Regions from separate parts of the Homo sapiens genome. Here region 2 is linked to region 1. The links come from fine-mapping of genetic effects on gene expression. A gene starts in region 1. The other region holds a variant in brackets. All regions are shown on one strand. Distances are between the middles of the regions.

The links.
Region 2: its variant is fine-mapped to the expression of MYOD1 in skeletal muscle (GTEx, PIP 0.98).

The regions. Positions count from the first base shown.
Region 1 is chr11:17,712,959-17,728,452 of GRCh38, forward strand. It overlaps MYOD1 (myogenic differentiation 1), which reads left to right and starts at 6,613. Exons shown (of 3, transcript NM_002478.5): 1 at 6,613-7,454; 2 at 7,944-8,022; 3 at 8,297-9,178. The coding sequence starts at 6,825. The coding sequence ends at 8,550. RefSeq lists enhancers at 1,694-2,194, 7,562-8,073, 8,074-8,585.
Region 2 is chr11:17,679,165-17,694,658 of GRCh38, forward strand. No RefSeq gene overlaps it. Among named protein-coding and RNA genes, the nearest start is that of LINC02729, 10 kb to the right of the region's middle. The variant T/A (reference allele first, on the strand shown) is at 9,056.

The sequences.
Region 1 (15,494 bases):
GTACTATGTCAGTTTTGGAGGGAGTTTTTATAAACCTATTGAAGAGGGGAATAAACAGCTCTAGCCTATTATGCCTAGTTCTTCAAGAATCTCTTGGTTTGTAAGATATTCTTTCATTAGAAGTAACAAATTGGCCAGGTGCGGGTGGCTCATGCCTGTAATCCCAGCACTTTGGGAGGCTGAGGCAGGTAGATCACCTGAGGTCAGGAATTCGAGAACAGCCTGGCCAACATGGTGAAACCCCATCTCTACTAAAAACACACAAAAAATAGCCAGACATGGTGGCTCGCGCCTGTTGTCCCAGCTACTCAGGAGGCTGAGGCACGAGAATCGCTTGAACCCCGGCAGCAAAGGTTGCAGTGAGCTGAGATCGCGCCACTGCACTCCAGCCTGGGCGACAGAGCGAGATTCTGTTTCAATTTTTTAAAAAAGAAGAAGTAACAGATTGCCCATCAAACCCCATGCCCAAACTCTATCTCGTGCCACCCCCACACCCCCCAGCCCCTACAGCTCCAGGAGCCATGCCTGTCTGTACCCACAGAATCCTCTGCTCCTAGCAGAAGCGATTGTCCCATAGAAGGTGCTCAATAATTATTTTGTTCTCTCTGCCGGGAGCATTCTTCCCCAGATGCCACATGGCTAACTCCCAAGCCTCTTTTAACTCTTTGCTCAAATGTTACCTTGCCAACCTGACCACTCTGTTTAACACTACAGCCGACCCCAACCTGGCACCTCAATCCTGCTCATCTTGTTCTGCTTGTAATATTTTTCTGCGTGTATCGCCTTCTAACATCTATATAATTTATTTATTATTATGTGTATTGCTTATTGTCTGCCCTGCCCTGCCCGCATGTCAGTTCCACAGGAACAAGGAACATGGTCTGTTTCATTCTCCATCACATTCCCAGCACCTGAATAAATGTTTGTTGTATAAGTGAATGAATCATAGACTGGACAACTGAGAGTGGGAATATCCCCACCACCCCAATAGTGCCCTGCCCCCACCCCCTGCACACTGGGTGGGAAGGGCACATGCTGTTGGTTGTCTTCCTGTTCCCTCCCTCCACAGTGTGGACTCCTGTTCTTCAACTCCCAGCTCAGCTGCCAGACTCCTAAGCCCTGCTTGTCTGTGGGAGGCTGGAGAGTACCCCCAAACGGGGAAATGTGGCCTTCTGTGAGGAATCTCTGGGACCCTGTCCCTAATCTGGGACCATGTCTATATCCTGGCAATATCACAGTCCCTCCTGACCAACCCAGACTGGGCCCAGAGAAGGATCTATACCCATGTGGTGGGTGGATTTTGGCTTTCCCAGGGAGCAAGTTTGTCAGGGGACAGAGGGAGGCACTCAGGTTGGACCCAGGAACAGGAAGGGAAAGGCTGGGGACAGAGAGGGGACCTGGAGCTGGCCCTGCCCCACCAGGCCCACTCATGCTTTTACCTTCTGGCCCTTTGGCGCCCCCCACCTCCCGGCCAGATACGCAGCCTGTGTCAGCCCCAGTGCAGAGCCACAGGCCCAGCCTGGGCAGGGGCAGGGTGCGTGAAGACTGGGGCAGGTGCAGGCTGGATTGGGTTTCCAGAGGCTATATATATAAAGGCTGCCGGGAGCCCCAGGGCCGCTCCCTGAGGGCACAACACTGTGGGGGCCCAGCCAGGCCCACATTCCTTTCCAGAGGCCAGCTCTCCATTTATAGCCCCTGGGCAGAGCAGCCAAGGGAGCTGAGAGGGGAGGACTGGAAAGGGCAGAGGGAGAAGGGGCAGCCCAGGCAGCACTCCCTCCCCACTCCCCACCAAATGAGCCCCTCATCATGAAGACAGCAGAAGCCAGGCCCAGGGCGAGGTGTGCACATGCCCCCAAGCACAGAGCCTACCATTCTGGTCAGACCTGCGTTGAGGGGTGAGGGGGCTGCCAGGGGATCCCCTCAAAGTCCCTCAGCCCATTGCTAGTGGCCCCTCACAGAACAAGTCCAGCACCTGTGGACAAAGGGCACCCTTGACTAGACTCTGCAGTATAAGAGTTTGAATGTTTTCAGCTTCCAAACTTGGTATCCTTTTTCCCTCCGCCCCCAACCCAGCACTGGGACTAAAAGGACAACATGTCCCAGGTTGGACATACTTCTCCCTGCTCTGTGGGCAGCAGGGAAGAGATGATGGTGTTGACAAACCTCTCTCCAAAGAGGAGACGCAACCAGAAGGGTGATTCCAGGCAGGTGTGGATGCCAGGCATGGAGAGGTCTGAAATGGTCACCGAGTTCAGTGAGTTCCAATCTTTTTTTGAGCAACGGAAGCCTGGTAGCAAACAAAAATCCCACTTGAAAGCCTAATATAAAAATGGCATTTTACCACTAGAATGTCTGTGTGCTTTAAAACAGCGCTTCCTAATTATGGAAGAAGATGTAGCTGCAAATCAAGCTTAAAACTGTCAAAGCAGTTTAGATTTATAAGCCATAAGTGATAAAATATTAAATGTGTTTGGTAAGTTCAAACATATAACATTTACTTATTTATTGTAAAGGCAACTTGATGACAGCCCTGAGGAAGTTTTTAGAAACACAAAGCACAAAAAGCAAAGTTGTATTCACTTGTCTCAGCATCCAATTTATTTTGTAGTTTCTTGCTTATTCAGATTTGGGGAAAATCTAGATTTGCATAGATAAGTGGTTTGAATAGCTCACCTGGGAATCTCAGAGTACTCTTTAATTAAGTAGACTCATTCATTCATTTGCCCAAGAAATATTTATTGAGTGCCTACTATGCACCTGGCTTTCTGCTGAGCCTTGAGCAAGTAGGAAGAAGTATTTGTTTCTAAATCATCAATACAACAATTACTTACATTCCTCATTGTGAGTATAGTGAAAAAACAATAAGAAGACACATCGAGATGCCAAATCTCTCTATAGTATACCACTACAATATTGCAGCATGCCATGTATAATGCCCAGTTCAAGAGAACATGCCCCAGGCAGATGGGGTCTGAGCCTTTCCTGGGAAGAGCAAGTGTAATAGAACATGGATGTCTAATCATGTATGTGACTTCCCAGTTTTGAAGAAATTCAACCATCTTCATTAATGTCACAGTTCAAGACATTCAAATATATGCATAGAGATGCAAAGGGCGTGAGGCCACTCATTCATTCACTGGACATTTATCAGGTGCCTACTGTGTGACTGCCACTGTGATGGTTTTTGGAAATGTCATTGTGAACAAAACATCTTTGCCTTCATGGGGCTAAGTCAGTCATGAACAAACTAATGAAGAAGATTATAAAGAGTGGCAGTGCCTGGAAGGAAATTAACAGGGTGGTGTGAACCAGAGTATGGGGGGCAGTTATCTTAGAGGGAATGGTCAGTGATGTCCCAAGGAGGCAAGAAGATCTATTATATAAAATGCAGTCAATCTTGGGAAAAGCCCAGGGGATAATGCTATGAGTTTAGAGCAGCAAGGACAAGGCTCCAAGGCAGGATCCTGTTCAGAGTGTTAGAAGACAAGAAAGGAGGTCAGGCTAACTGGAGTAGAGCAATCAAAACGGATGGTGCCTCCAGGTGTAGTAAGAGACACAGGCTGAGGCTAGCTCATGCAGGGCCTGATAGGCCAGGGGATGGAGATGAGATTTTACTCTAAATGCAAGAAGCTGCTGGGGAGTTTGAAGCAGGAGGATGGCATAATCCCATTTACATTGTAAAGGTCTACTCAGGCTGCTATGTAACGAATGGATTATACTGAGGCTACAGAGGAAGTGAGGAGGGCAGCCAGGTTATTGTGGTCATCCAGAGCAGCAGTGTGACAGCTTAGTCCAGGATGGTGACACTAGGGATGGACTGACTTGAGACAGGTCTTAGAGGTAGAATGGACAGCTCTTCCTCATACTCAGACCTCTCCTTGGGAACTCCAGCCTTAAAAATCCCCCTGCCTAATCCACACTTCCATCTGGATATCCGATATGCATTTCAAATTTTGCCCAAACCTGGACACTTAATCTACCACCCACAAACCTAGTCTTCTCAACTCCATTCTTGCAGGAGTCATCCTTAGCTCCTTGCTTATCTCACTTCCCACATGCAATCGTGAGTAAATACTGCTAGCTCCATCTTGAAAACATATATCTAGAATTCAACCACCACTTTTCACCAGCTCCACTCACTGGGATTATTGCAATAGCCTCCTAATTGGTCTCCCTCCTTCTGCCCTTTCCCTCCAGTAACCAGCATGCTCCTGTTAAAATGTAAATCAGATAGTGATATTCTTCTCTTCCGCTCAAGCCCTCCAGTGAGATGGCTCAAGCCATCTCAGAATATAATCCTGTTTCTCTCTCTCTCACCCCATTTCCCACTATCTCTTTTACTCACCCTGCTGCAGACATATGAGCCTCCTTGCCATACTTTGAATCTGCCAAACATGGTCCTGCCTCAGGACTTTTGCACATGCTTATCCCTCTATCTGGCCCTACATATCTCCAGGTATCTGCTTCCAATTCTCTTCATTCAGGTCTCTGCTTAAATGTAGCAGAGAGGCCTTCTCTAATCACTCCATAATCTTCATCACTGTGTCTCCCTGCCTTGCTTTTTCTTCATAAGGCTTCTAACCTCCTGGCATCACATACTTCCTTGCTTATTTGTTCATTGTCTATCACCCTGCTTACATTGACAATGTAAGTGCCATGTAAGCAGAGTCTTGGTTTTGTTCATTGCTCTAGCCCCACACTTGGACTGGTACCTGCCACATAATGGATACCTAACAATATGTGGATTTCCGGGTGACCCCCTGCAGCTTGGGTGGGGTGAGGCCAGGACTTTGCTGCCTCTGCCAGGATTTAGAGTTACTGTCACTGCTGCTCCATGATGTAGACTTTACTGAATGAACAAATACAGGTGGGCCCTATGGAGTAAAGCGAGGTGAGTACTTCATGAAGGGAGACCTTCAGCACCACTACCAGCAGCAGAGAAGTGAAGAAGTTAGGACCCCAACAGAGCCCTCTGAGTTTTGTGGGAAGGGAGGACTTCTTAGGGCCCAGAACGGCCAGCTAGAATGCCTTCCAGAAGTTAGTGGGAAAGGCACAAAGATCACTCCTGCTTAAATTTCTGGTTTCCAGGAGGGGAGATCCAGGCAGGGATGTATGGCCAACGGAGATTCCTAGCCAGAGTGCTGAGAGGACTGTGTGAACTGCAGATTCAGGAAGAGGCTGAGAGACCCCCATGGGGGTGGCCGGTATGCTGAGGCTTGTATGGGAGCCAGATATCCCACATCCCATGGGGTGGTTGCCTCCTCCTGTTTCCAGCCTTTCCAGTGAGGCTGCAGGAAAGAGACACAGCTAAGGCCTGGAGACTCGTGGCACTCCGTCAGGGCATGGTACCACAGATGAGTTGTAAGCCTGCGGGACACAGCATCCAACTCTGAAAGCCCCTTGCTCGAATAACCCTACATCACCGCCTGAGGGCTTCCATATCCTTGGTCTCTTCAGACTGTCATCCCCACCACAATTACTCCAAGAAATTACTGTCATCCCCAAATCTATAACTGGAAACTGAGGCTCAGGAAGGAGACATGACTTCCACAAAATCACACAGTTGGGAAACTCTGGAGTCTGCACTCAACTGGTCTGCAAACCGCACTCTCGGAGACTTCAGGTGAGATGAGGTCAGGTTCTCAGGCCAGGTCCTGAAGTTTGACACCTTGGCGAAATGCACTTTCCTTGACTCAGCACCGCGAGTGAGGCGGAGCCAAGCCCCGAGCAGAAGGGTTTTCTTCCCAGCTGAAGAGGCAGCTCAGCCTAGACCCCAGGCATGGCACTGGACACCCCTGCTGTGGAAACGTGCAGATTTAGATGGAGGGGATTCCTAACCTGGGCAGGATCCGAGTTTGGAGAGATTGGCGCGAAGCTTTAGCAGCAATCTCCGATTCCTGTACAACCATAGCTGGGTTTCTAAGCGTCTAGGGAAGAAGGACTGGGCCCACGACCTGCTGAGCAACTCCCAGGTCGGGGACTGGCGGAATATCAGAGCCTCTACGACCCGTTTGTCTCGGGCTCGCCCACTTCAACTCTCGGGGTCTCTCCGCCTGTTGTTGCACTCGTGCGTTTCTCTGCCCCTGACGCTCTAAGCTTTCTGCTTTCTGCGTGTCTCTCAGCCTCTTTCGGTCCCTCTTTCACGGTCTCACTCCTCAGCTCTGTGCCCCCAATGCCTTGCCTCTCTCCAAATCTCTCACGACCTGATTTCTACAGCCGCTCTACCCATGGGTCCCCCACAAATCAGGGGACAGAGGAGTATTGAAAGTCAGCTCAGAGGTGAGCGCGCGCAGCCAGCGTTTCCCGCGGATACAGCAGTCGGGTGTTGGAGAGGTTTGGAAAGGGCGTGCCGGAGAGCCAAGTGCAGCCGCCTAGGGCTGCCGGTCGCTCCCTCCCTCCCTGCCCGGTAGGGGACCTAGCGCGCACGCCAGTGTGGAGGGGCGGGCTGGCTGGCCAGTCTGCGGGCCCCTGCGGCCACCCCGGGGACCCCCCCAAGCCCCGCCCCGCAGTGTTCCTATTGGCCTCGGACTCCCCCTCCCCCAGCTGCCCGCCTGGGCTCCGGGGCGTTTAGGCTACTACGGATAAATAGCCCAGGGCGCCTGGCGAGAAGCTAGGGGTGAGGAAGCCCTGGGGCGCTGCCGCCGCTTTCCTTAACCACAAATCAGGCCGGACAGGAGAGGGAGGGGTGGGGGACAGTGGGTGGGCATTCAGACTGCCAGCACTTTGCTATCTACAGCCGGGGCTCCCGAGCGGCAGAAAGTTCCGGCCACTCTCTGCCGCTTGGGTTGGGCGAAGCCAGGACCGTGCCGCGCCACCGCCAGGATATGGAGCTACTGTCGCCACCGCTCCGCGACGTAGACCTGACGGCCCCCGACGGCTCTCTCTGCTCCTTTGCCACAACGGACGACTTCTATGACGACCCGTGTTTCGACTCCCCGGACCTGCGCTTCTTCGAAGACCTGGACCCGCGCCTGATGCACGTGGGCGCGCTCCTGAAACCCGAAGAGCACTCGCACTTCCCCGCGGCGGTGCACCCGGCCCCGGGCGCACGTGAGGACGAGCATGTGCGCGCGCCCAGCGGGCACCACCAGGCGGGCCGCTGCCTACTGTGGGCCTGCAAGGCGTGCAAGCGCAAGACCACCAACGCCGACCGCCGCAAGGCCGCCACCATGCGCGAGCGGCGCCGCCTGAGCAAAGTAAATGAGGCCTTTGAGACACTCAAGCGCTGCACGTCGAGCAATCCAAACCAGCGGTTGCCCAAGGTGGAGATCCTGCGCAACGCCATCCGCTATATCGAGGGCCTGCAGGCTCTGCTGCGCGACCAGGACGCCGCGCCCCCTGGCGCCGCAGCCGCCTTCTATGCGCCGGGCCCGCTGCCCCCGGGCCGCGGCGGCGAGCACTACAGCGGCGACTCCGACGCGTCCAGCCCGCGCTCCAACTGCTCCGACGGCATGGTAAGGCCGGGACCCCAGGAAGTGAGGAAGTTAGGGCGGCGCTCGGGATATCAGGGACGCGTTTCCGAGGGCGGGGAGCTGGCCTTGCGGGAGGTTTGGGCCAGGATCCTTCCCGAGAGAGAGGACCCCCTTGTCCTGGGCAGCTGTCACTGGGGTAGCCTGTTTTGGAAGTGTGCGGGCAAGCGTTCGAGCTGCCCCATTGGGGGCGCTATTAGAACACTGCAGCGCGAACGTGAAGATCTTTTTCTCTACTTATCCCTACTTCCAAAATGTAAATTTGCGCCCCTTGGTGACTGTCCGCCCTTGGTTTGGCCCTGCATGTTGCAGACCTCATCTCCTACCCACCCGTAATTACCCCCCCAACCAGGACAGGTCTGGGCCCGGAACTAGAGCCTTAGGCTAGAGTTAGGGAGGGGGCGGCTACAGGAATTGGTGTTCGGGCCTCGAGCCGTCCCGCGGGCCTGACTCAGTCGCCCTTGCTGTTTGCAGATGGACTACAGCGGCCCCCCGAGCGGCGCCCGGCGGCGGAACTGCTACGAAGGCGCCTACTACAACGAGGCGCCCAGCGGTGGGTATTCCGGGCCTCTCCCTGCTCGCTCCTCCTCCTTCATGGAGCTGTCCTGGCCTCTATCTAGGACGCTCCCACCCCCACTCACACACGCCTATGTCCTGGGAAGTGGTGCAGGAGATGAAATACTAAGCAAGTAGCTCCCTGTCTTTTGGATTGTCCCGGACTCTAACTAAAGTCCTCAGTTTCCAATCTGTCTCAAAGTACTGGGCCCGGGGGTGGGAGGCTTGTCGCGGCCCCACCCCTGCTTACTAACCGAGCCCTCCCCGCGCAGAACCCAGGCCCGGGAAGAGTGCGGCGGTGTCGAGCCTAGACTGCCTGTCCAGCATCGTGGAGCGCATCTCCACCGAGAGCCCTGCGGCGCCCGCCCTCCTGCTGGCGGACGTGCCTTCTGAGTCGCCTCCGCGCAGGCAAGAGGCTGCCGCCCCCAGCGAGGGAGAGAGCAGCGGCGACCCCACCCAGTCACCGGACGCCGCCCCGCAGTGCCCTGCGGGTGCGAACCCCAACCCGATATACCAGGTGCTCTGAGGGGATGGTGGCCGCCCACCCGCCCGAGGGATGGTGCCCCTAGGGTCCCTCGCGCCCAAAAGATTGAACTTAAATGCCCCCCTCCCAACAGCGCTTTAAAAGCGACCTCTCTTGAGGTAGGAGAGGCGGGAGAACTGAAGTTTCCGCCCCCGCCCCACAGGGCAAGGACACAGCGCGGTTTTTTCCACGCAGCACCCTTCTCGGAGACCCATTGCGATGGCCGCTCCGTGTTCCTCGGTGGGCCAGAGCTGAACCTTGAGGGGCTAGGTTCAGCTTTCTCGCGCCCTCCCCCATGGGGGTGAGACCCTCGCAGACCTAAGCCCTGCCCCGGGATGCACCGGTTATTTGGGGGGGCGTGAGACCCAGTGCACTCCGGTCCCAAATGTAGCAGGTGTAACCGTAACCCACCCCCAACCCGTTTCCCGGTTCAGGACCACTTTTTGTAATACTTTTGTAATCTATTCCTGTAAATAAGAGTTGCTTTGCCAGAGCAGGAGCCCCTGGGGCTGTATTTATCTCTGAGGCATGGTGTGTGGTGCTACAGGGAATTTGTACGTTTATACCGCAGGCGGGCGAGCCGCGGGCGCTCGCTCAGGTGATCAAAATAAAGGCGCTAATTTATACCGCCGTGGCTCCGGCTTTCCCTGGACATGGGTGTGGGATCCGGAGGAAAATCCGCAAACTGGGCCAGCTGTCCCTCAGCGACGCCTGTAGGCGGCAGGCGGATTGCAAGGAGGAAGCCTGCTGCCTGGGGAAGGAAGGAGGGGTGCAAATTTCTCCAGTACGTGAGGAAGTTCCTCTGACCTTGACTACATTACTACACACGTCCGTGGCTCTTATGGAAGGGTACACAGGTTGATATGAGTATTTTTTAAACCCATGTCTGAGCTCGCCCCCTAGATATTCTGATTTAATGTTTCTGCCCCATATACCCAGGGCCAGGTATTGGTATTTTTTTTCAAAAGCTCCCCAAGTGATTCTGAAGTTCATTCAAGGCTGAGAATCATCCCCTCCATATAAAGTGAGTGAACCCAGGTGTGATAACCAGAAGAACCACGGGAAGGTTGTGGCCCAGGCATCACTTGGGGGCCTCGTTGGGTATAGAGGATGTGATAGGGTGCCCACAGCATTCCGAGGAAGATCTAAATGAGTGTAGACATGTGCTGTAAGCTCTCTGGCACTTACAGCCCATTAGTAATAGGTGTAACTGCAAAGAGATAGCATAGAAGGCCAGACAGGCACAGACACCTCTACCCAGCACCTAGAGCATCCCGACACTATCAGATTCCATAAGACAACAGGAGCCCGGATCCTGTGAGCAGAGCGGCATGTGGGCCAGCATCATCACAGATGGCATAGGTACTCTTCATCAGGCTATAAACTCTCTGAGAGCAGAGGAGGGGGCATTTATTTAGCCTGAGTGTTGGGGAGGGCTTCCCGGAAGAGTTGTCATTTGAGCTCTGTCTTAAGAAACAAGAGTAGACAATGTACTCACAATGCACACACACACACACGCACACACACACACACAGGTACCTGTGCCCTCCCCTGGGTCCAAGGCCCCTGAGGGATGGTCTGGCAAGGGTTCTTCCCCACTCACTTACCACCTCCCCACCCCCAACACACGCGTGCCATGAGGACCTCAGGACCTCCTACATCCCACCCCATATATGTTGTTCCTGAAAACCCTACAGGCCCACTTTCAAGGGTTTTGTTTGCCAAGTAGGGGGCCCTCAGGAATGCAGGCAAGATGTGATGCCAGAAGGAATATCCGAATATCCTCATTACCTGTCTGAGGATCCATTCTCTGCTCTCCCCAACACAGGGTGCCTAGGAAGCTGCCCAGAGCTGTTGTGTTACGAATGATCCTCCACTTGTCTTCTGGCCACTTCCCCACATGTCCCTTGGGATTCTTTATACCCTTGAGACCCCCTGGGGTCCATTCATGAATTCATTGATTCCACAGATGCCAGGTCTTATGCTGGGTGAAAACAGAGACTGTTGGATGCAGTTCCCGCCCTTGGGAAGCACACAAACATTTGACTAGGATGGAACCTTTTAGCAGCTGGTTACATCCTGTTGAATTAAGTACTGTACTGGAGGTGCATGTAGCAGGGGAACGCCATAGAAGCAAAGGGGAAGGTTCCCTAACTATTCTGGGGGAGATATAGACAAACAGGTAAACTTTAATGAGAATCTTGAAGGAGTTGGTCAGGAAAGAGGGGCCAAAGAAAGGGGCTACAAGCTGAGGAAACAGCAGGTGCAAAGATCCAGGGGTGAGAGAAAGAAAACTGCCTTTGTGGAACTGCAGGTGCCCATGGGGAGGGGCCAGAGGAAGATGGAATGGCAGAGGCAGGACCACAATGGACCTCATCTGGACTTTATCTCGAGGGCAGTAGGGAGCCACACAGGAATTTAAACAGGGGAAGGATACAAATAATTCTGTATTTTAGAAAGGCCAGTTTGGGCTAGCAGAATAGGTAGGAGAGAACAAGACTTGAGACAGGGAGATCTTTCAGGAAGCCACTGGGGTTGCTTAGAGGAGGTATGACATATCCTGAATTGGCTTGGGCCAAATAATGTGTCAGTGTTGAGGGTACAGCAGAGAACATTGAAGGCACAGTCTCCACCTTCCTACAGCTTAAAATCCACTGGGGAAGTAACCGTGAGATGAAGAACCAAGTGAATAAATACAATGTTATAAACGATGAGAAACACCGTAAGGAAAGGCAACAGGTGTAAGCAGAGGTGGTAATGCGGAGTGAGAAGGCAAGCAGGTCGACAGAGGAGGCAGAAGTTCTGCACCAAGGGAAGCAATTCTATACATGAAGAGGGTCCCAGTATCCTAGAGGGGGTCTGTGTGTAATTAGAAAAAAGTACCCCTTCTCTCCTGGGGCATTGCCCTGCACCAGGGATCATGACTAGGCAGGCAGAGAGCAGGCTGGACTTCAGCCCCCACTCACCTCCTCAGCTGGGTGCACTTCTGTAGTGACAACCTGCATAACTTCACAGTGCCTTGTGCGTGTAGGCCCTAGAAAGTGTAGAGAAGGGAGGAGCCTTGGATGACTCCAGGCTCTGGTTTGCTTCTGACTTGAGGCCGTGATTTGCTTCTGAGTAAGTGGTGGTGCCATTACACAGATAGGGACCTCAGGAGGAGAAGCAGGTATGGTGACACATCTAGTGTAGAATACTTCGTGACAGAAACCTTATTCAAACTAGCCTAAACCCCACAAGAGGGTGTGTTGGAAGTTCACGGGGCAGCTCATATCTGGAAGTAGAGCTATAAGCACCACGGCATCTATGCACCTTGGGAGCTAGAGCTCCTCTCACACTTCTAGGCTGTCCACTTCATGTCTCTGCTTGGCTTCACTCTCTCCTAGTCCATATTGGTTTTCTCCAGAAACTCATGGGTTACCATGGATCTTACCATTAAACCCAGTTAGAAAATTCCCAGCCTTGGCATGGTGGCTCATGCCTGTAATCCCAGCACTTTGGGAGGCTGAGGCAGGCAGATCACAAGGTCAGGAGTTCGAGACCAGCCTGGCCAACATGATAAAACCCCGTCTCTGCTAAAAATACAAAAACTAGCTGGGTGTGGTGGTGCACGCCTATAATCCCAGCTACTCAGGAGGCTGAGGCAGGAGAATTGCTTGAACCCAGGAGGCAGAGGCTGCAGTGAGCTGAGATCATGCCATTGCACTCCAGCTCTGGGCAGTAGAGCAAGACTCCATCTTTGTCGGGGCAGTGGGGAGAAAATTCCCAGGGAAGAAGTCTAGTTAGATCAGCATAGGTCATGAGCCAGGATCTGAACCCAGGCAGAGGGCTCCAGAGACTGCACTCTTGGCTGCCTTGCTCTGTGTCTTCTGCAGAGGATGTCAGAAGAGAGGAAGTGAGAAAAGTCAAGAGGGAAGGGAACAGCTGGAGACTGGATCACACCATCGAGGATAGGGTTTGAGGTCCCCTCCTAGCCTGTCCCTTACCTCAGTCCCCTCAAGGGGGGACAACTGGCTGAGCCTGACTTCACTTGCAGTGTAGATGGAACATCCTTTGCTCATGGGGCCATTTTACCTGCATTGGATCTGAGGAAGCACCAGGGCCATGCTCTCCACAGAGACATATGTATATGTCTTTACACATATGTGCTCATACAAAAGCACATGTGTACCCAGAGCACACCATCAGAGGCTGATAGACTGTGAAGACAATAAAGTTTAAGCTTCAGTTCCCCTCTCTCGTATGAGCCCCTTCTAAGGTCCTGGGGGAAACCCTAGAAATATGTCTATATGGTCTAGCTACTTTTTTAATTTGCCAAAGTAAATCACTTTTAACAATTGGTTATGACCATTGTCTCTTTCTGTTCTGACCCTTGTATTGGGTAGCACTCATGGGGATGTTTGGATCAGTCCTATCTAAAGGTATAAATTTCATTTGGGTTTAGTGGAATATATTTTAAATAAATGAAATATAAAACATAAGCAATAATGATGAACAATGATATAAATTTAAATGATTCTGACATTGAGAAGATAATTAGAACCACAAAATTTATCTAGATCATGCCAAAAAGTGGTTTATTAAAAGAAGAAGAAAATTTTCTAATAGATTTATGGAAAAGACTCTTGCATGGTTTAATAATCCCACCAGTGAATAATGGCAAATTACATGAACACATTGGGAAAAGATTTAAATTTTTTGCTGATCTGTTACAAACTACTGGCATCCACAAAGATAGCATAAAATTCATAATATGCCACTATAACAAGACCTCAACATCATCAACACAATTATTAAAGAAACTTGTCAATTAAAAAATATTTAAAATTAGTCACCACACAAGAAAACTCAAAATGCCTTGAGTTTTTACAGCCCACAGATGAAAGAAACTTGATTGAGGTTTCCTCAAATTTGACATCAATTCTAAAAATGTACATGACATTTCCAATAGACTTGTGAGCCTGAAATTTCCTTAAATTATCAATGGTACAAAACAAGTTTTGATCAACCATGTTGAAGGAAAGACTGAATAATCTCTCTATTCTCTGTATAGAAAATGATATTATAAAACCATTGTCACATGAAGAAGCAATCAAAGAATGTGCAGCCGGATGCGGGTGGAAAGAGGTAGGCAAGACTGAAAAAGACAAGAAAAAGGAGCAAGAGGTGGAAGGTAGATAGAATGAGGAGACGAGGAGGAAGATAAAGGCAAAGATGATGATGTGATAATGATGAAAAAACAAGTTGGTCCTACCTTCGTTTTTTTTTTTCTCTCATAAGGCATTTGAAACACTCGCACTGCACACAAGTCACTCCTATTTAAAAACATTCGATGAGAGGCTGTGCAATATTTGTTTTTATATTGCACAGGGTCATTTTTGTGTAGTTGGTAACTTATTTTTTTCAGAGAACACGTGACAGTGGGTTTTAATTCATGTAGAACTTTCCCAGTAGCAGGGGGAAGTGAGTCCTATGGTATGCCAATGGCTACATAATTCCCTGGGATCTAGGCCTGGCTGTGTCATTGACCAGCTCTAAGATCTTGGGAATGGGACTTAACCCACCTGGACTTTGGCATTTACTCTGTGGAATAAATTAGTAAATTTAAAAAGTATGTCTCAGTTTTGAAATTATTTCATAATTTGCTTAAAGCATTTCAAAGAAAGAAGAGATTATGAAGCAGATCTCTTACAGATAAGGAAACCGGGACCACAACAAACTGAGAAGCTTATTCTCAGCACAGGCAACTCAATTATAGACTCCTGGTTAACTGGTCCTTCTTTCTTTTACTTTTCCCAATTTTTAAATTAAGATATAACTCACAACCATAAAATTCACCTTTTTAAAATGCATAGTTCAGTGGTTTGTACTATATGCACAAGGCTATGCAACCATCACGACTGTCTAATCTCAAAACATGTTCATCACCCCCAAAAGAAACCCATAGGCATTAGCTGTCACTCTTCACTATCCCCTTCCTCCTGCTTGCCCCTGGCAACCACTAACCTACTTTCTGACTCTATGGATTTGCGTATTTGGGAAATTTCATATGAAAGGAATCATGTATAAAATTCATAATATGCCACTGTAACTAGACCTCAACAATTAACACCAACATCATGTTTTCAAGCTTCATCTATCTTTTTTTTTTTTTTTTTTGAGACAGTCTCCCTCTGTCACCCAGGCTGGAGTACAGTGGCGTGATCTCAGCTCACTGCAACCTTTACCTCCTGGGTTCAAGCAATTCTTCTGCCTCAGCCTCCCAAGTAACTGGGATTACAGGCACCCACCACCACGCTCGCCTAATTTTTGTATTTTTAGTAGAGATGGGGTTTCACTATGTTGGCCAGGCTGGTCTTGAACTCCTGACCTCAGGTGATCCCCCCACCTCGGCCTCCGAAAGTGCTGGGATTACAGGTGTGAGCCACCGCACCCAGCCAGTTCATCTATCTTACAGCGTGTAGCATACTTCATTCCTTTTTATGCTGAATAATAGTGTATTATACGGATATATCACACTTTTTTAATTCATTCATCTGTTGGTCACGTGGGTTATTTCTACTTCTTAGCTATTAGGAATAATGCTGCTGTGAACATTCAAGTACAAGTGTCTGTGTAAATGTGTGCTTTCAATTTTCTTGGGTATGTATCTAAAAGCAGAATTGCTAGCTATATCACAGCTCTATGTTTAAAGTTTTGAGGAACTGTCAAACTTTTCCCCAAAGCAGCTGCACCATTTTATATTCCCATCAGCAACATATAGGGGTTCCAATGTCTCCACATCCTTGACAACATTCTGTTGTTTGTCTTTTTTGTTAGAAGTAGCCTAGTGGGTGTGAAGTGGGTTTTGAGTTGCATTTCTCTAATCACATGTTGAGCATGTTTTCATGTGCGTATTGAGTATTTGTATGTTTTCTTTGGAGAAATGTCCATTCAAATTCTTTGCCCAT
Region 2 (15,494 bases), 34 kb before region 1:
CCTCACAAGTCAAGTGCTGCCTCCTGTAGTTCCTTAAAGGTGTTTTTTGTTTGTTTGTTTTTGTTTGTTGGTTGGTTTGTTTTTTCTCTGAGATGGAGTCACACTCTGTCGCCCAAGCTGGAGTGCAGTGGCACAACCTCTGCCTCCCGGGTTCAAGCAATTCTCCTGCTTCAGCCTACCAAGTAGCTGGGACTACAGGCACACGCCAACATGCCTGGCTAATTTTTGTATTTTTCAATAGAGGCAGGGTTTCATCATATTGGTCAGGCTGGTCTGGAACTTCTGCCCTTAGGTTATCCACACACCTCAGCCTCCCAAAGTTCTGGGATTACAGGCGTGAGCCACCGTGTCTGGCCAAAGGGTCTTTATTTTTAATTTCGAGAAAGAACATTCTGCCAAAATCAAAAGTGTTAGGAATTGTTGAAACTGCAGAACACACAACATAAATGCAGGCACTCTGGTTGTAATATTTCAAAATAACTATCTTGGCAAATTCAATTTTAATTTTTTCCATTTGCCTTTTTTATGATTTTGCACAGAGCAGCATTGATCATAATTCTGGAGGGTTACTTGAGAATTGTTTTTATTCCTTTGGTGTGTCTGCCACACTGGATTTTTCACCCATCTTTTAATGTGATTGGTGAAATGCAAACAAAGCCAGTAGCTGTATTTGGCCTCTGAAATCTTGTGTCTCAATGGGCAGTTGCTGTATCAATTACAGGATGAAAAATGATGGACTATAATCCTTTCCCCCAAAGAATCTGCAGATCAGAGAACCATCTATGCTTTGGAGCATATGACAAAAAAAATTTAAAGTACTATCCTTTCAAACAAGAGAGTTTTACGATGTGGGAAATGTGATTTAAAACAGTTGGTTGTTACACAGCCTTTAGGGCAAGCATGCTGTCCACTGTACATTTTGTAACTGGATTACAACTTATGCATTACAACTCAACTATGCTAGAAAATATGTTATTGTTCTCTATATGTTTTCAACTTGTTTTAAAGTCTCCAAATGAACTGAAGGTGGAGGAAGAATTGTACACTCCAACTCTTCAAGTTAAAATTGCTTTGGAGTAAATGCATGCTCTTTTGGTGAGTACTTCAGTTCTTCAAGGTACTCCCCACTCACTCCTTCCTCTTTCTTCCCCTTGAATGCTATAGAGGCACTGACAAGAAAAGGGGGTGCTCCATAGCACAATGGCATGGAGGAGGACCTGCGGTCTAAGCCATATGGCTTCTGCTCACCTGGGGGAAAGGGATAGATCAGTCCACCTGGTCTCTAGAAGTGAACCTCCTCCTTCCCTTATCCGTTGCTGACCAATCTCAGTCTGTGCCTTCAGTACCGGCAAATGACTCGGTGATTACATTCTGAAAGATAGCCCTGTCATTTTGCTGTTCGGCTCCTGCTCAAGCTACTGACCCTGTGAAACTCAGCTACAGCTCCCACCTAAACCCCAGCTTTGGGCTGCCTATTCCCAGCCTCTTGTAATGGGAGTCTTCCGACTTCCGAGCCATGGGGGACCTTGGACTTCCACACCATGGCAATCTTTAGACAGGCCTGCCGATTCTTAATTCGCGTCAACTTTTCTGCTTGCCGCAGCCATGAAGATGCTTCTGGATCCCTTTAAAAGCATGTGAAGCCTGCTTCTGGCTATCAGTCTAGACACAGCGTGCAGCATATGAGTGGGGCAGGGAGAAAATGCAACCACAACACAAACTCTTGTAGCATTTCCTAAAACTTGGAAGTGTGTGGTTTTATCAGGGCATCCATCCTCTCTCCTCTCCCCTGTATCCCTGGACTAAGGCAGCATCCTGATATTATTTTATACTTTCAGGAAGAGCTCTCTGCTTCCCCTTCTGTCTAAAGGGACTTCTCTTACATCATCTCTTTCTCCTTTCCTACTTCAGCCCAACAGCCTGAAAGTCGATGGGAGAAATGCTGTGGGGCTGAAGCTGGGAGCAGTGGCTCACACCTGTAATCCCAGCACTTTGGGAGGCCAAGGCAGGTGGATCACCTGAGGACAGGAGTTTGAGACCAGCCTGGCCAACATGGTGAAACCCATCTCTACTAAAAATACAAAAAAAGATTAGCCAGGCATGATGGCATCTGCCTATAATCTCAGCCACTCGGGAGGCTGAGGCATAAGGAATCTCTTGAACCCAGGAGGCAGAGGCTGCAATGAGCTGAGATTGTACCACTGCACTTCGGCCTGGGTGACAGAGTAAGACTCTGTCTCAAAAATAAAAAAAGAAAAAAAGAAAAAGAAATGCTGTAGGGTATAAACCCAAACCACTTAGAATAGAAACATGTATCAGGAAGTTTTTTTTTTTAAGTTATAGAAGATCCCTGCCATATAATTCTGACAAAGTTTTCTATATACTTTCAGGTAACAAACAGCCAAGTCTCAAAGGGCTAGCAACCACTACAGCATTCATCCTTGCTAATACTCATACAAACATTCAGATTCTTCTGGCAAAGGGCAGGCGAGAACCAGTTTTCACAGCGCCTCACAATATACTGAATATATATATATATATATATATATATATATATATATATATATACACACACACACACACACACACACATAATTTTTGCACATAAAAATAATCCAGGCTATATGATTATAGGCACATAAAATATTATTTGCACATAAAAATAGTCTATATTATTATAGTCCAATCCAAAGATTTTAGAGTAATAAGTGCAAAAGAAACATTCTTTGTCAAAATCGTCTGAATTCCAAAAGCTGAATTTAACCAATATAACAATTTCTTGTGCCCTTTTTGTAAACCCACTGATGCTTTTATCTTTATCTGTATGATATATTTTGGTCTTGTCACTGCTTAACCAATTAAAGACTAGTAGGATGGTAATTAAGTGTTATTGGGCAACTGGCAGATAATCATATTAATAAAGCAGTGCAAAGATGCACTTTAAGATTCCTTAGAACTCATGCCTGTAATCCCGGCACTTTGGGAGGCCGAGGCCAGCAGATCACGAGGTCAGGAGATCAAGACCACCCTGGCCAATATGGTGAAACCCTGTCTCTACTAAAAAAACCAAAAAATTAGCCCAGAGTGGTGGCACATGCCTGTATTCCCAGCTACTCAGGAGGCTGAGATAGGGGAATTGCTTGAACCCAGGAGGTGGTGATTGCAGTGAGCCGAGATTGTGCCATTGCTCTCCAGCCTGGTGACAAAACAAGACTTGGTCTCAAAAAAACAAAACAAAACAAAACAAAACAGAACGGAAAAAACAGAAACCTTAGATCTTACCTCCTTCGTTGTAATAATTGTTATACATCCTGATTCTGCAGTCATGTGTTTGAATCCAGATCCTGTATCTGAATCCTACGTAAGTGGGTGTTTGTTTCTTTGCTAATGCTTTCATGCTAATTATTGAGTGCTTTAGCATAATTAATAGCCAATAGTATTGCCCTCTCTGACTCATGTGGGTCTTTCAGAGTCACTGATCTTAACGCAATGTTCTTATACATCCTGCTGCCCCTCCTGGCCCTCTGGCTCACACCTGGAGTGTCTGCCTGCACCTTGTAAGGGACAAGCCCAGGTGGGACCTGTTGCTGGGGTTGTCCTGACCATCACCCAGGTCTGCACATTGGCTGACCTTTGGAACAGAATATTTAGCTACCTGAGGATAAGGCTGGGTCTTTATTGTTCTTCATGTTTCCTTCCTTCTAAATACACAAGAAAAAGAGTTAACATTTATTGAGAACTTATTGTGTGCCAAATACTTTACAGTAATTATGGCATTTCATCCTCACAACAAGTCCTTGAGGTATGTTCTACTAATATCCCTATTTTATAGCCAAAAACAGTGAGGCTCAGAGAAGTTAAGTAACCCATCTGAAATCACACAGTCAGCAAATAATAAATCTGTGATTTGAACCCATCTGACTCCAGGGCTCTTAGCTATTAGAATTGGAGCACAGAAAAGTTAAATAGTTTGTCTACAATTATGAAACTAATAAGTGGCTGGGCTGGGATTCAAACCCAGGTCTTTTCCACCTCCAAACCTTTGTTTCTAAACCTACAGGACAGGGAAAAGGAATGAAATAGGAATGCTCACATTAGGTCTATGAGAGCAGCATAAATTCAGATGATCATAGCAGGAACTAGCCTAGAAACTGGATGGACGGTTTATGAGAGCTGACCAAGCAGAGGTTCATTTCAGCTGACTGGATGGTGGAATTTACCAATCATAGAACAAGGGCTTTGGAGAGCATATGGTGAACCTGACCAATGAGAGCTGCATATTGTGACAGATGGGTGATTAAACCGGCCAGGCAATAACTGAGAAAAGGGGATTATTCAGTGAAACTGACCAGTCACAGAGTCACAGGAAAGCCTGCATCTCTGTGTTGGGAACTTGCTCCTCGGAGAGGTGATCTGACCTAATGGCAAAAGGCCACTCTGAGCTCTGCCTGGCGCCAGGGTTCCAGGAAACAGGTCTGAAGCCATTCCTGTGCCAGCAGCAACTGCCAGCACGCCTTTGCTCATAGATCAGCCATGAGGTCAACGGTTTGAGTGACTCACCTCGTGAAAATGAGGCGGCAGTGTTGGGCCTTACTGTTTCTCTGTAAGCATTTAAATTGATTTTTCTGCCTGGTTAAATTCCCCCGCTTTGTTTTTATACAGAGGCTTAGGATGAAGCTGGATATCAGGTCCAAAGACACTACCAGGTAAAACAGCCCTCCTGCCCCGTGTCCTGCAAGATCCAGGCTCTGTGACCAATGAAACTGACTAATTGAAATCGCGGTCAGGTGTCAGTCATCCCAGGGACAGCCTTGCTGATAGTCACTGCTTGAGACAACCCCACTAGTCAACTGGCAGTCCAGGGAAGCCATCACCAAGGGCCTAGGGACATTTCTAACCCCCTCCTAAATCACCATATTGAGTGAGGATCCCACCCACTGCCACAAATGTCAAGAAATCACATGTCTTCAGGCCCCCACAAACCATGCGATGCCTCCCTCTTGGAAAGAAACTTCAGGAGCTCCAGGAGTTTGATATGGGGAGAATCTCCAGAGAAGGATAGGAGGCCCCAGCTGCTACAACCCTTAGAATTTACCTTGTGTAAAGTTTTTTCCTACTGCTGTCACCGGGTGTCACTCCCTCCACCCCTCATGGTGCTGCTCCCCAATTCAAACAGCCCTCCTGGCACAGGCAAACCATCTTGGTTTGGGTTGCCCAGAAGGCAGAACCTGAGACAAGGACTTGTTGAATGTTATCTACTTGGAAGGTGATCTGAGGACACAGATAGATAGGAGTAGCAAGAGTGAGATAGGGAAGTAGGAAAATCTAAAATGAGGGTGTTTCCTTGGACTCATGTCTATAGGTGTAGGGGCTCAATTCTTCTGGAATCTCTGAAAAGTTTATAGAACGTCTCCTGCAGTGTGCACCTGACAGGTGATACCCGGAGTCTTTATCCACCATCTCCCCTTACTGGTTGAAAATTGTTTCTAGGGAAGTTAACTGCCTTGTGCCTCTAGGCAGCATTTGCAGGTTGTAAGCAAGCTTCTGTGTCGTGAAAGAAACCTCAGATCAGAATCTGGAAAGACTCTGGCTCCTACTTGCGGTAGGACATTGAGACTGAGTCCAAGCTTGCACAGAACTGTCCACTACTGCTGTGGCTGAAATCAGGGGCAGGCCAGGGGTTTGTGGTGCAACACCAGAGGCTACACACACTCAACGGAACCTTCCTAAACAATTTTCTGAACTCTGAGAGCAAACAATAGGGAAATAAACTCAAAGGGAGCAAGAAACGGGATCCAGTGTATCTCAACCAAACTGGGATATATGGTATTCCACACTTCTACCCAAAAGGCATTGAAGAAATACCTACTGACTTTTGAATCCTATAAACTTGGGTTCAAATCCTGGCTCTGCCACTTGGTAGGTTAGTAGCCTTAGACATATCACCTGACTGCCCTAAGCCTCCATTTCCTAAAGTGTGTAATAGGGATTAAAATACTTAACCTTACAAAATAATTGTCTGCAAAGCCCTTGGGATATAGTAGGTCCTTTCTCAGCAAATGACCACTCTTACTAAAGGGCAGGCACATTTTCACACCCTCAAAGACTCATGCCAGAAGCCAGCTCTGAGCTCCAGGCTGCCCCTAAGGGAAGGTGGCCATTTCGCCTTCTCTAGTTAAGAGCTGCTTGGCATCTCAGTACTTTTAAGACCAAGACCAGATAGCGATATGGCCCCCACTGTCCTTGCCCTCAGAACTCTAACAGAACCATTTCTTGTCCTAGAGATTTGGCTCAAACTATTTAGCAGGTACAGGAGAATTAGGTCTGAGTGAGATGCAAAAATATCCAGGCATTAAAAAATGGAATGATGTGGAAAAGATCAGTCTTTGGAGAACTATCTTGACCTTTCCCTCAACAACTGAAGAACAAAATGAAACTTTCCTCTATAAAGGTTTGTTTCATGGTCTGGGTTTCCATACTGCTGGGTGAAGCAAGCAGGACATGGTAAAAAGCAAACTCAGATTCCAGAGGAGAGTGTCTCCATGTGTCACAGCCAAACCATCTATGTTCTTGAATTGTACTAAAAGATGACAGTATCTATAAAAGATATTTTAAAAACTTATCACCCTTATTTCAATTGTTTCCATATTTCCATTCTTGCTACTCTCCAAATTTCTCCTTTAAATGACCTGAAATTCGACTTATTTAATCTGGGTCAAAGGATCATGTGCATTAGTCCAAAACCCTCCTTCCCCTGACCTCCTCTACTTTGGGTGTCTGGGGTTGAGCAGGAGCCTCCATATCTGATCCCATCATGCAGACAATAGGTCTGCAGACAAACTTCTCCAGGAGGAGCCAGGAAAAGAGTCCTGCAGTAGGAGGAGAGAGACCGGGGCTCTGCTGTGAACAAGCATGTGACCTTAGGCAGGTGCCTCACCAACCTAGGCTCCAGTTTTCTTTTCTTTAAGGTGAGGGGCTTAGACAGGAGGAGCTCTGAGAGTCTGCGGATGTTATCCTTGCGGGCTTAAACAGAGGTCCCTGGACAGCCAGGATGTTCTGAGCCCCACCATGGCGTCCCTGGCCTGGCTAGGGGCTCCCGCAGGGCAGGATCACGTTGCCCCAGATTCCAGGACTGGCTGCGGCACAGACCCAGGATCAGGTGACAGATCCATCCAGCCTGGACTGGCTCAATCCCTCCACTACAGCCGCAGCCCTGGGGGCTGGAAAACCAGAGCTAATGCAAGCCAGCTGGAGGCCAGGACAAGATTGATGAAGGATAGGGAGAGGATTTGGCCAGGGTTTTTTTCAGTGCGGGAGGGTGGTAGAGAATAATTAGTCCTGCCTGCTTCCCAGAGGCCCTCAAGCTGGGCAAACTTCATTAATTGGGAACCCCCAGTGGGGAATTCCTGCTCATGACCCAGAAAAGGAAGAGCTCTTTAGGAGTTAATTAGTAGTGAAAGTGCCAATCAGGGAAAATGTTTAAACTATTAAATGTCTGAGCACCTGTTTACCTACAAACAACTGATACAGTAATTATCTCACCATCAAAGCAGGTCCTCTATGATAGTGATTACCAACCTCAGGAGAGCCTGAGGATCGCCTAGGAACCTTGTTAAGCATCCATCTCCAATGCAATGATCCTGATTGGTCAGCAGGAGTGAGAAGCATTGCTCTAAACCGTCCACTAGCCCAGGAGTTCTTGCCTCAATCTCAGTGGCTCCATGTATCAATAAGCAAGAAGTACTATTACCACTAGTCTTTCTATAATTCACTCAGCTTTACTATGCCCCAAGAACAATGCTAGGCCTTTAGCATTCATTGTCTTTTAATCCTCATAGCAGCCACGTGTGATAGGTGTTATTACCTCTTGTCTGCAGAAAATGACGTAATTGAGCTCAAAGAGGGGAAGAAACTCACTAGGTAAAATAAAGTTAGTAAGTGGCAGAGATTTTATTTGATCCTAGATATTTTGACTCCAGAGCCCAAATCTTCACTGCAATATTTTTAATGATCCCCAGTGTCTTTCCTGTCCTTTGAGTGATTAAGACAAGACTGCTATGCTTTTGAGGACAGTCATAGTGCTATTCAAGATATCCATAATACAGACGGGAAAACCAAGTCTCCAAAAGGGGACATTAATTGATTCAAAGAGTTCAAGCTTATGGCTCCCATGTTTGGGCCATTTTCTGTTAGACAAAACTATCACGTGGAATTATGAACTAGAAGGAAGAAGAGATGCTGGCCTCCAGTGCCAAATATCAATGTGTTGCACTGCTATTCAAGAAGCAGAGCAATTTAGTTAGGAGCATTGGGCTGTAATCATATCCATTCTACCAACACCAAGTGTGACCTGAGACAAGGCACTCACCTTCTGTGGGTCTCAGTTGCCCCATCTGTCAAATGGAAATGCCACTGTCTAGTCTGCCTTCTGCCTTGTGAGTGGAGAGTCAATGAGAGAAGAGTGCCATCATGGTGGAAGGGATCACTCCAACTGGTGTGTAACAGCTTTGACTTTAGGGGGCCTCTCATGCAACTACATGACAGCTTAGAGCTTGGCAAGACTTCCCTTTGAACCAGGGCCCCAGAGCCAATATTCTCCTTTCTGGATTTCAGGAGGCTAAAGAAAACACTTCCCAATATTCTCCAGAAAGCTGGCAAGATGGTTGACCAGTTGGCCCTCTAGGCCTTCTTCCTGTGACACCTGGATTTGACCTTATTGACCAGACAGGCCTTGTAGCCCTATCCCTCAGACCAAGAGCAGCCTCCTCCAGAGCCACCCTTACCTAAGGGCACCATCCGGATGCCTGCCTAGTTCCCTTCCGGCCCTGATGGAGGCATGAGCCTCCCCCACCGCCTGCTCACTGCTCACTCCTCGGCCGCCAGCCCAGCAGCTGTTGCCTCAGATCAGTGTGGACCATCTAATCCCCTCTCCAGAGCCCTGGCCCCCTCCTCAGGCAGTAAATTAAGGAGGATGTAAGAACAGAGGGCACCAGCGTCAGCAGAGCGGCATCCAAAACATCCTCCCCAACCCGCGCCTGAGTCACAGGGCCCTGAA[T/A]TGGCCCCTCTCCTCCTGAAGCAGGGGAGGAGGAGGCCAGGACAACCAGGCCCGCGGGAAGAGGGAAGCAAGAACCCAGAGGAGGGAAAGGGCAGGGGGCTTGTAGAGAGGAACCAGGCCAAGCTCCTACGGGTGTTCCAGCTCAATCACTTTCACTGTGACTCTAGGAGACCCCAAATCTCTACTCCAGAGTGACACAAGACAGGGGACCCGGATGTCAGTTTCTTATTACGCCCTGACTTCCAATCCCGTCTGTTTCACATGCCGCACCCACCCCAGACCGTTGTGTCTCTATTCCTGAAATGGGCAGAGAATAGTCAACTGACAAGAGTCAGGAACACCTCATCCCGGGGCACATCCCAAATCCCTGTGTTGAGGGGCTGGGGCAGTAGAGGCATCTTTGGCAGCTAGCCTCACCTCCTGCCCCTGAGAGCATGGTCTACAGGACTGGCCTAAAATCCTATGACTTGCTGAATTAAAAACACCATCTAACACTCCCTATACAGACGGTATGCTGGGGCCCACACCAAGAGCTTTCCGATCTGACTCAGAACTATCAACAAACTGAAAATGCAGGAAGAGGTAGAAAGATGGCCAAATAACACTGGCATAGCATCCACAGGTATGACCCAGAAAGAAGGGCAATGTGGGGATGCTGCCCTGTTTTTCAGAGACGTCACCTGGAGAAGAGGCAGATGAATAATGTAGTGACAGAGATCGGAGTAGAATAATAAATCCCAGGGGCTTGAGATTTTAAGTCAGCAAAATCAATGCACCTTTCCAACTTCACCAAGATGTGGTAGGATAAGACTCGCCCCTCAGAAACAAAATAGAAATTTTCATGGGCACAAAGAAAATGAATTTGTTCAGGGGAAGGGAAACAATCCTATATGTCAAAAGCACCAAGGATTGTGTTTCAGGTTTGCTTTAAATGCCATTTATATGCTGATGACTGTCAAATGGCTATCCTCAGGCCAGATCTCTCAATCAACTCCAAACTCGTATCTATCAGCCTATGTGGTATCAATCACTTGGATATCCAATAGACCTCTCAAATTTAACCTATCCAAAACTAAATTCCTGATCACCCACAAACCCACTATATATACAGCCTTTCCCATCTCAGCTTATGGGTAACTCCCTCATTCATGTGGCTCAGGCAAAAACTTTGGCACTATGTCTTAATCTTTTCTTTGTCTCCCCTCTCTACTCCTAACACATCTACTCTGTCATGAGATTCCATTAGCTCTGCTTTCAAATACTATATCGAAAAGCTGACTACTTCCTACTCCTACCCCTGTTACCATGGTCAACCAAGCAATGGTTGTCTTGTAGCTGGGTTAGTGCAGTACAACCCCTCTCTACAAGCCCTCTTGCCTCTGCCCTTGCCCCAACCTCACACCCCCACCCCATCTATTCTCAGCACAGCAGCTAGAAGAATCCTTTTAAAAATCTAAGCTAGGGTTCGTAACTCTTTGCTCAAAGCCTCCAAAGCCCCTATTTCACTCAACCTAAAAGCCAAGGTCCTGGCAATGACTGCAAGGCTCTGCATGGTCTGGCTCTACTAACACTCGGACCTCATCTCCTCTACTCTCCTCCTTGCTCTGCTCCAGGTGCACCAACCTCCTCGCTGTGTCTCAAGCGTAACAGACATGATAGTGCCTTAGGACCTCTGTTGTAACTTTTCTCTCTGCCAGGAACGTTCTTCTACCAGATATCTACCTTACCAAATCCTCACTGTCTTCAAGTCTGCTCAAATCTCAGCAGGCCTTCCCTGACCACACTTTCACTGCAGTTGAACCTTCCCACCTTCTGGATCCTGAGCTCCTTTACCCTGGTTTGCTTTTTCTTTTCTTTTTAAATTGCATAACACCAACACTCTGCAAGTATATAATTCACTTTTGTATTAACTTTATGCTTCTTGACCACTCTCCCACCTAAAACATAAGCCTCATGGGATCTGTTCACTGCTGTGTCCTCAGGGCCAAGAACAGAACTTGGCCCATTCATGAACGAATGGAATCAATCAATCAAAGTTGTAAAGTGGAGAGGAATGTCCTCTAAAGCTCCCCTGGCCAGATCAAAGAAGTGGAGTTTGAGATATTGAAACATGTCCTGGGTCTTGCCCAGAAATGTATTTTAAGAAGTGATGGGGTCTTCATCCATCTGGATGTCCTGCTACAAGGGACTTGTGGCTGAATATCAAACATATCTCAGACCTTGAGGCACCTTTAATATAACCATACTTGTTGCTGATCAAATGGAAACTAGCAAAACAGCAGAAGCAACTTATTACCAATATTCATCTGGTTCACTCCATGTCTGCTGTGCTGTTCATACCTTCATAACTGAGTAAACTGCCCTTGTTCTTGACTTAGCCCTGTGCCTCAACTTTAGATGTCTGTCCTCACACTCGCAGCAGTCCAGACCTGCTTTATGAGAATGTCATTTATTGCCTTCTTTGGCCACTCAACTCAAATGGCTTATTTTTTTTTTTAATCAACTTTTGCTCCATTTCCTTTTTTACCACCTGGGTAAAAGAAGGCACTTAGATTAGTTTTCTATTGCTTTGTAACACACTACCACAAATTTGGTGGCCTAAAATAATACCTACAAAACATCAATTGTAATTAAGGAAATGCAAATCAAAACCATGATGTGATTCTACTTTATACCCACTGGCATAGTTCTAATAAAAAGGACAGATATAGCAAGTGTTGGTGTGCATGTATTCCCACTGTACACTCCTGGTGGGAGCTTAAACCAGTGAAGTCACTTTGGAAAACAGTCTGACCCTTCCTCAAAAAGTTGGACATAGAGTTACCATATGACCCAGCAATTCCACTCCTGGGTATATACCCAAGGGAATTGAAGATGTGTGACTACTCAAAAACTTCTCACAAATATTCATAGCAGCTTTATGCATAATAGCCAAAAAGCAGAAACAGCCCAAACCAAATGTCCGTTAACTGATGAATGGAGAAATATAATGTAGTATATCCATACAATGGAATGTTATTCAATCATAAAAAGAAATGAAGCACTGATCTATGCTACAACTTGGATGAACCTTGAAAACGTGCTAAGCAAAAGAATTCAGACACAAAAAGCCACATATTGTACAATGCCATTTATGTGAAATATCCAGAATAGGCAAATCCATAGAGACAGAAAGTAGATTAGTGATTTCTGGGGCTGGGGGAATGTAGAGTGATTACTTAATAAGTATGGGCTTTGTTTGGGGGCAGAGGCAATGAAAATGTTCTGGAATTATATAGAAATGATGGTTGTACAATTTTATGGCTATATTTAAAAAACTACTGAATTGTCCACTTAAAAAATGCCCATTTATTAGCTCACATTTCTGTAGGTCAGGAGTCTGGGAGGGCTTGGCTGAATTCTAATTTCAAGATCTCACAAGACTGAAATCAAGGTGTTGGGGGTGGGCATGAGACATATTGCAAGAATCTGCTTCCAAACTCGTTCACTTTGTGGGCAGATTACTGTCCTTGTGGTCATAGGGCTGAGGTCCCTATTCCTCACTGGCTGGCTGTCTCTCAGCACTTTAAGACTACTGGCATTCCTTCTTATATGGCCCTCTCTTTTTCAAACCAGCAGCAGCACATCAAGTCCTTCTTATGCTCCAAATCTCTCTGACTTCGCCTTCTGCCACCAGCCTAAGAGAGTTCTTTGCTGTTGGTGACTCAAGAGATTAGATTAGACTCCCTCAGATAATCTCCCCTCTCTAAGGTCAACTGTACCATACAACATAGCATAGCACAGTCAGGGGAGTATCATATTTACGGGTTCCAGTGAGTGTGGAGTCTTGGGAGCCATTCCTAGAAATTCTGCCATTACAGTATCTGAGAATTAGTTTAGGTAGACTTGCTGACAATTTGATCTCCCGGAAGGAGCAAGCATTCCCAAGCACCTGTTCCATCCACATGCTGGAGGTTCCATGAGTTACTCGTTTGTCTCCATGGTCCCCAGGCCAGTGCTAGTACATAATGCGTGCTTCAGTGAGTGCTCATTGAATGTTTGCTAAACGGTTCCTACTCTGTAAGGGGTCATTCATTGTTTACCGGGAAGGCAGACCCATACAAAACCCAGGAAGCTCCGGAGGCTGAGAGCCGTAAGAGGGAAGGTAAGCGCACGTGGTGTGAACACTTGGGAGGATGTGACATGGGGAATGGCTTCTTCTGACCAGTTAGATGAAGACAGGTTAGATGAAGACAGGTTCCTTCTGACCAGTTATATAAAGAAAGTAGCCCAGTCATTTCTGAGCTTGTGCTCACCATAGGGGTTATCCATAGGTGTTATTCATAGGGGTTATCCATAGGTGCTCACCATAGGGGTTATCCACATGAGATATATGCCAAGCATGTCCCCATTTTTGGAAGGCAAATCTCAAAAAGTGGGGGGAGGAGATAAATAGGCTCCTATGAGAAAATGTGCTATTCAAGGATAAAATAAGTTTAAATTTTAAATGCAAATGATTCCAAGAAAGAAGAAAAATGCGGGAAAAGCCAGGGGTAGGGGGGATAGTAGCCCGAGAGAACAATACAGAATTATATAAACTCTGCAGAGTGTCCTCTGATGCTCGCATTCATTCTTTCAGCAAATATCTACTGAGTGCTAACCATCTACTGAGGGCACTGTGTTAGGCACAAGAGCACATGGAGAAGCCAGGTGGGAAATGTGGTAGGCAGCCTCTACGATGGTCCCCAGTGATCCTCGCCTCCCATCACACTGTAATCACTTCCCTCTGATTATGAGTATCAGCAGAAGTAGTGGGTTGTCACTTCCACAATTAGGTTATAAATAGACGCGGCTCTGTTTAGGGTGCACGCTCTCAGTTCACTCACTCTAAGAGAAGCCAGTTGCCATGTTGGGAGTCGCCCCATGGAGAAGCCCACATGGCAAGGAGCATCAGCTCCAGCCAAAAGCCACGTGAATGAGCTAGACATGGATCCTCCCCTGGTGAAGCCTTGAGATGACTGCAACCCCAGCCAACACCTTCACTGCAGCCATGTGAGGGACCTGAGCCAGACTGCAGCTAAATTGATCCTGGATTCCTGACCCATAGAAACTGTACAACTATAAATGTGTTGTTTTAAGCTGCTAAATGTAAGTAGCAATAGGTAACTAACATAGGAAAGATTATAAAAGAGATTATAATACTCTCTAATAGTTACAATAAAGAATATATAGAGAATATACCAAAATCAGAGACAGGGCAAACACCTGAAGCTGAACCAAAGAGATGGCTTCAGAAAAGGGAGCAGGAAGGGAGAGGACCCCAATGGAGTGAGACTTAGGAAATTACTAATGGCAGCAAAAAAGGATTTCTTGTTTTGTTCAGGGTAAGAAAAGGAACAAAGAAGGCTTCTGTTGGGGCTGAGGGTGGTAGAGAAGCAGAACTCTCCAGCTTCATCTGCAGCTATTGTCTTCATATTGAGGTCCATGAGCCTCAAGCTGTGGCATTCCTTTCTCAAATGTGGCCACGAATGGAATTAGGTTTGGTTGGAGTAGACTGAAGAAGGAGACGTGGGGAGAGATTGTCCTAGAGCTCAGAGCTCTGCCAAGTACATTTTTCTCTTTAGGCCCGAGAAATCCCACTTTGAGTCCTGGGAGCACGTGAGGTGAAATGGGAGTTGCTGGTGACCTTTGAGATCTGGGGGATGGGAGGTGGCAGACATTGCCTTCATTTCCAGAAAGAATAAGGTGGATCCCAAGACACACAGATCAGGGTGCTGATGTTGATCTGGGGAGAGGGTCTAGAACAGATTCCAAAGGGATGATGTGTGAGCTCCAGGACCCAGCCCAGAGTTCTCTAAACAACTTAGGCCTACGCTTACCAGTTTTCTTGGCTTTTAAACAGCAAAGGATGAACAATCATTATCAAGATAAAGGTAAGGCTGTGAAAATGGCATGTCCTGATTTCATCTGGGCAATTGATACAGGCTTCATAAGTGGAAGAAAAATACAATCAGGATTGTTTGTAACCATTTGAATAGTTATGGCCAGAGATGACTAAAGGAACATTATCAAGGTATTCCCAGGAGACCCTCAGTCCCTCCTGGATACTACTACTAACAGTTAACATGTATTGTGAATTTCCACGGTACTGATAACTGTTCTAAGCACTTTCCATGGATCTTCTCATTTGAGTCTCAAAATCCTATGAGATATAATCAGCTCCATTTGACAGATCAGGAACATTAGGTGCAGGAAGTTTAAGTAACTTGACAAGGTTACACATTAGGATATCACAGAGCCAGGACAGGCATCCAGTGATCCAGACTTAATGCCTTTGCTTTAACCATGTGGTCCTATTGCCACAGAGATGGCAATGCCAATATTCTCCACCTGGAGAGAAGCAACTTGGCTCAGCCTGCATGAATATGAAGCAGGCTCAGATGCGGGGTGCGCATGCATG